2 separate regions of the Homo sapiens genome follow, and region 1 is linked to region 2. The links come from fine-mapping of genetic effects on gene expression. A gene starts in region 2. The other region holds a variant in brackets. All regions are shown on one strand. Distances are between the middles of the regions.

What was found.
Region 1: its variant is fine-mapped to the expression of MAX in whole blood (TOPMed, PIP above 0.99).

What each region holds. Positions count from the first base shown.
Region 1 is chr14:65,077,620-65,080,529 of GRCh38, reverse strand. It overlaps MAX (MYC associated factor X), which reads left to right. Exons shown (of 5, transcript NM_002382.5): 4 at 2,494-2,617. Among named protein-coding and RNA genes, the nearest start is that of MAX-AS1, 11 kb to the left of the region's middle. RefSeq lists an enhancer at 2,152-2,910. The variant T/C (reference allele first, on the strand shown) is at 1,308.
Region 2 is chr14:65,101,115-65,104,024 of GRCh38, reverse strand. MAX (MYC associated factor X) reads left to right here and starts at 1,508. Exons shown (of 5, transcript NM_002382.5): 1 at 1,508-1,721; 2 at 2,453-2,479. The coding sequence starts at 1,686. RefSeq lists enhancers at 1,094-1,243, 1,937-2,437 and a silencer at 1,574-1,923.

The sequences.
Region 1 (2,910 bases), 23 kb after region 2:
TAATTCCCAAATTCTTCCTTGCCACTCTACCACCTCTTATCAATACTAATCATTTTTCATTCCATCTCCAGTATCCAGAGAGGAAGGTATTTTAATTAGTCCCTTCTAATTATGTGCTCCTTTTTTCCACCCCATTTTGTCACCTAATAAACCCTAATAAGGTCCCTTTGTAGAAATGGGAAACAGTGTCTGAAGTATCCATTGCTAGGCTAGGAACTCTCATTCCTTCTGCATAAGCTGACTGACTCAACTAAAGAAACGCATCTCACTTTTTCCCCATCCCATCTTGACTGTGCTATTCCAAACGCCACCTTGGTCTAACACAGGGCTCACCATTTCAGATAGGAGCGTGTTGCATGCACACATGCAGCACCAAGGCCAATGCGTAGCACACAGTAGGTAATCACCCCAGCCAGAAGCCATCTTTCCCGTGGTGTCTCTAGTCTCTGCTAGTCAGGTTACGCTTGTCAGCACTGCCCTGTGATATTTCCATGTATAGACATATTTATCTCCTCAACTAGATAGTAAGTAAGCTTTGGGGCAAAGAAGCCATGACTAATACATTTTGTTTCCCCACAGTATCTGCCTAGTATCTTGTACGTAATTTGCACCTGATAAAAATGGTTGATTATGAACAATTTCCTTGAGGAAATTACCTTAAGGGTGCTAAAGAGGAAAGCCTGGAAATTCTAGTACTTGTGAGGACTTATGAATAAGCACGGGCCTTACAAACCTTTCTGAAACTCAGCCCAAACTGAGGCCTATAAATTGAGATTGTTAGGATTTAATATGAGTAGATCTGGTTTTGCTAGCCACGGTGTACATGTTTTCTTTGTCTTTCTCCCGCTGTTGTGTTCTGGTTGTTTAGGACCCATTGGGCTTGTAATACAGAATTGTCAAGCACTCCCTACCCTGAGTAAGAAGCTTTCCGGCTGCTCAGGAGTCTCTGGCTGGAAGGCCATACTTAAGCTACTAGGCTACCCCGCCTTGAGCTTCGCTTGGCTTTGTACTATTCTACCAGTTTGGCTGGCTGCCTGGCCATAAGTAACTCTGACTATGTTTGTAGCCTGGAGAGAATCTCCCAGACAAGTTTGATGTCTAGGGGCACAGTAACATGACATCCATGTTATTGACTTACGAACTTACTCTAGCAAGGCAGTACCCAGGCAACCCACAGCCATTGTAGAGGTGTGGTTGTTTCCTGAAATGGCCCAATCTCATGCTCTTCCTGTGTTGACATCAAGCACCGACAGCTTTTTATGAAAGTCTCTTTAGCCAGGAAGGCTGAAGTAGTGACACAGCAGCAT[T/C]GTTCAGTTCGGAATAGTTAACAGTGGTTTCAGAGTTTGGCTGGAATCTTGGGTCTTGATGAAACACATTGTACCCATTCCTGTCTCAAGCCAGGCCCTAGCAGAATTAGTGACCTAAAGCTTTCATTTAAGTAGTATTTTAATGTTTCCAGACATAGCCAAGCTAAAGACTTTAAAGCAACCTAAAGAACCAGAGGAGATGGGAGGAGTACAGTTCAGGAGTCGGATGGCTCTGAGTTTAAAGCCAGGCCATGCTACTGTGCAGCTGGTGATTTTGAATAAAGCGGTGTACTTCTCTGATCCTTGGGTTCTTAGTAGAGCTACCTCTGAGACTAATCTTGTGAGTTAAGCTCTGTAAAGCACTTGGCACCTTGTATGTCACAAAGAAGGCCTTCACGGATGCAGTGGCTCACGCCTGTAATCCCAGCAGTTTGGGAGGCCGAGGTAGGTGGATCACCTGAGGTGAGGAGTTTGAGACCAGTCTGGCCAACATGGTGAAACCCCATCTTTATTAAAAATGTAAAAATTAGCCAGGCAACGTGGCATGTACTTGTAATCCCAGCTACTCTGGAGGCTGAGGCAGAAGAATCACTTGAACCTGGGAGGTGGAGGTTGCAGTGAGCTGAGATCACACCACTCTACTCCAGCCTGGGCAACAGAGCGAGACTACGTCTCCAAAAAAAAAAAAACAACAACAACAACAACAACAACAGGCTGGGCGCAGTGGCTCACACCTGTGACCTATAATCCCAGCATTTTGGGAGGCCAAGGTGGGCAGATCACCTGAGGCCAGGAGTTTGAGACCAGCCTGGCTAACATGGTGAAACCGCATTTCTACTAAAAATACAAAAAAATTAGATGGGCGTGGTGGCGCACACCTATAATCCTAGCTACTCAGGAGGCTGAGGCAGGAGAATCACTTGAACCCAGGAGGCGGAGGTTGCTGTCAGCCAAGATCACGCTGTTGCACTCCAGCTTGGGCAACAAGAGCGAAACTCTGTCTCAAAAAAATAAAAAAATAAATAAATAAATAAAGCCTACAGTAGCCATTATTGTATTTCTTCAGCCTTTTCCCACCTTACCCTCTCGTTTCCAGCCACCCAAGCAGTTGCTGCAGGCCAGGTTCCCTCACTGCCTGGATTGGGTTTTTATTTTGTCCCCTGTGCTTTTTCTCATATTGCCACAGGCATCCCGGGCCCAAATCCTAGACAAAGCCACAGAATATATCCAGTATATGCGAAGGAAAAACCACACACACCAGCAAGATATTGACGACCTCAAGCGGCAGAATGCTCTTCTGGAGCAGCAAGGTGAGCACCCGAGCTCGTGGGGCAGCTGGCCCTGCTGTGCTCCAGCCAGGTCAGGCTTTGGCACCTGGGCCTGCAGAGTCAGAGCCAGTCATGGAGTATGTGCTCAGTAGCAGGCTTGGTCCTGCTTCTTGGGGCCTGAGTAACTGAGTGTTAGAGCCGTCCTGAGGAAGGACCTGAGGCGCCAGTGAGGAGACAGTGGAAGCTAGGAAGTTGGACATCTGGAGACTTGTATCTTTTCTGGCCTGACCTCTCCCCTTCTTGGGGCTCAGGTGCTCTGCCTGCAGTAGGGATCA
Region 2 (2,910 bases):
TTGCAGTGAGCCAAGATTGCGCCACTGCACTCTAGCCTGGGCGACAAAGTAAGACTCCGTCTCAAAAAAAAAAAAAAAAAAAAAGAGAGAGAGAAAGAAATACAATAGATATTAAAGGAAAAAATGTAAAGGAAAAATTACCACATTTACATTTGTCTTTTCAGCATAGATGACATGCTCACGTTGAGGAATGTGTGTCACAAGAATTGTGTGTGACATATCCCCAAATTTCCACATTCAAAAGTCAGGGATAATATGGTATTCATCCGGGAATCAGTAACTCATGGGAAAAGCTCAAGATGTCATTCACTTTGGAGACCAGATGTAAAGGAGTAGTATGGGTACTTTGTCTCAGGGTGGAAAGTGTCTGTTATGGTTTTCTTCCTTCCCATGGGACTTGTTGCACACTCTTACAATGGCGGCAGGACCGGCACGCTTGCTTGCACAGCTGTGAGCTGCATGAAGGCAGGGATGGTTTTGGTCTTATCCGTTATGGCATCCCCTTGTGGCAAGTTAGGTGTTCAATAAATATCGGTGGAATGCATGTGATTACACTTCATGCCACAGTATATAAATATGATTTTAACTGGACAGGGAACTGCAAAAGTTTCCCATATTGATCCTTTTTGCAATCTTAATTATGGTACTCTGAGCTGGGATATTGCCTAAACTGTCTGGGCTACAACAAACTCTGAAGGGGCTTTTACTTCCACGTCCATAGTGGTTGAGGGTTCGCGTTGTGTGAACGCTGGAGCCTCACGTGAGTAGCTGAGTAGCGAGGATGGTCACTCCCAGATAAACGAATACAGGATTCTCGCGGCTGGGAGCGGTCGCCCGGCGAGGTCGGTCATTCTGCCTGTCCGGTAGCACCACGAAACACCTGCCACTGACACCTCCCCACCAGCCCCCGAGGGTTCGCGCAGGCATCCCGAGCCGCGCCCCCTGGTCCGCCGCAGCCAGATTCCCTCCCGGGCGGGTTACGCCCCTAGGCGCAAAACGGAACCACTCCGTATGAAGAAGACAAAGTATAACCAGTCACACCAAAGAGAGGCAGCATTATTTAGACAGCCGGCTACTCCCCCAGAGACTCCACCCAGTCCCCTGGGCCCGGCGTCCAGCGCGCAGACGGTGCCCGGCTCCAGGAGTTCCAGCTCCCTCCACGTGTCCTGTCTTCCCAGCAGCCTCCTCTGCCGCCTCGGGAGGAAAATCTCCTGACAACTCGCGGTCTGCGGACTACGACTCCCAGGAGGCGCCGCGCCGCGGCTCTCCCCGCCCCCCCCCGCCCCCCCCCCCCTCCCCGGGACGCGCAGGCGCCTTGGGCTCCGTCAACAAGCCGGGCTGGCGTCGCCTGGATGCGGTTTCTTCCGGGATTTGTAGTTTTTCTGGAGCTACCCGGGCCGTCTGTTAGAGGGACAAGAACTACAAGTCTCGGCTGCCCCAGCGCTGCGAGCCTGGTCACGTGGCGGGGGCCGACCGGGCGTGCGTGCCGCCGTTGATCCGGTGCTGCAGTGAGGAGGTGGTTCTTGCCCGTGTTGTGTGTGTGTGTGAGTGAGAGAGCGAGTGAGTGAGTGAGTGAGTGTGTGTGTGGGGGGGACTCGGCTTGTTGTTGTCGGTGACTTCCCCCTCCCCTTCACCCCTTCCCCTCCCCGCCGCCGCTGCAGTGGCCGCTCCCTGGGCCGTAGGAAATGAGCGATAACGATGACATCGAGGTGGAGAGCGACGTGAGTCCTGGGGCTTCTTCCTTCCCGTGCGGGTTGTCAGGCGGGGACAGCGGCCGGGGCTCTTAGCGGGGCGACGGCGGGAGGGGGCCGGGCTGCCGCCGCCTCCTTCCCCTTCCCCTCGGGGCCAGGAGTGCCTCCGTCGCGTTCCCGGTTCGCTCCCCTCCGGCTCCTGGCCGGAGCGGCCTCCTGGGACTGGAGGTTGGGGGAAGACACGCGGCTTCTGGGACCCCCACCTCCTCCCTTGCGGGAGGGTGCTGCGGCCTCCCGCTCCCACCTTCCCCGGCTCAGGATCCGGGGGACAAGGATGGGGGGCGCCCGGGATCCCATTGTCCGGATCCAGGGGAAGGGGACGGCGTTCAGGACCTGCCCCTTCGGACTGCGATCCTCTCCTCCCGTGACCCGCGGATCCTGGGGGCCGGGGAAGGGCGGAGAGGGGTTGGGGGTGCCTAGATGCCCGAGCTGGGTCTGCAGGGAGGAGACAGTGCTCGGGACCCCTCTGGCCCAGGTCGGATCCCGGAAGGAGGGGCGGCGCTCGGGACCCCTCTACCCTGCTACCGGATCCCGCCGAGGGTGGAAGGGTGGGGGCAAGGGGTGGGGAGGGAGGAAGGGGTGTCGGGCTGACTCCCCACCCTCCGCTTCCTCTGCCGCCGGCATTTTCTTTCTTATTATTGAATGTTAAGTGTAAAAATAACTTCTATATTTTCTATTTTTTTTTTTCTCTCTTATTCCAGGAAGAGCAACCGAGGTTTCAATCTGCGGTACGTCTCCTACTCTCCATTTCATTTTTATTTCCGTTCAGTTCTATTCCTTTTTGGGGTCAGAGAGAAAAAGAGATCGTACTATTACTTTTAATATTGTAGTAAACTCTAATGTTAACCACTAAGGTGAGGTGGGGCCTGGTTCTGGAGGGTGGGGGGGTTGCAAATCCCATTATTCTAGATTCTCAGGTGATAAGTTCAGTGATTCTAGGTGAGTAAGAGGAGCTGTATGCAAAGAATTGAATTGTTCTGTAGTTTTCAGATAGGGGATCCAGATGCCACTATGTAAGTGGAAATGAGAAATGCAGCATTCTGGTCTGGTAGTATTATTTCAGGGCAAAGTGGTCAGAAGATTTATTTAGGAACAAGTAGGTTTTAAACCATATCTGTATAATTGTGTGAAGCTGAAGCCACATGCGGTAATCGCCTTT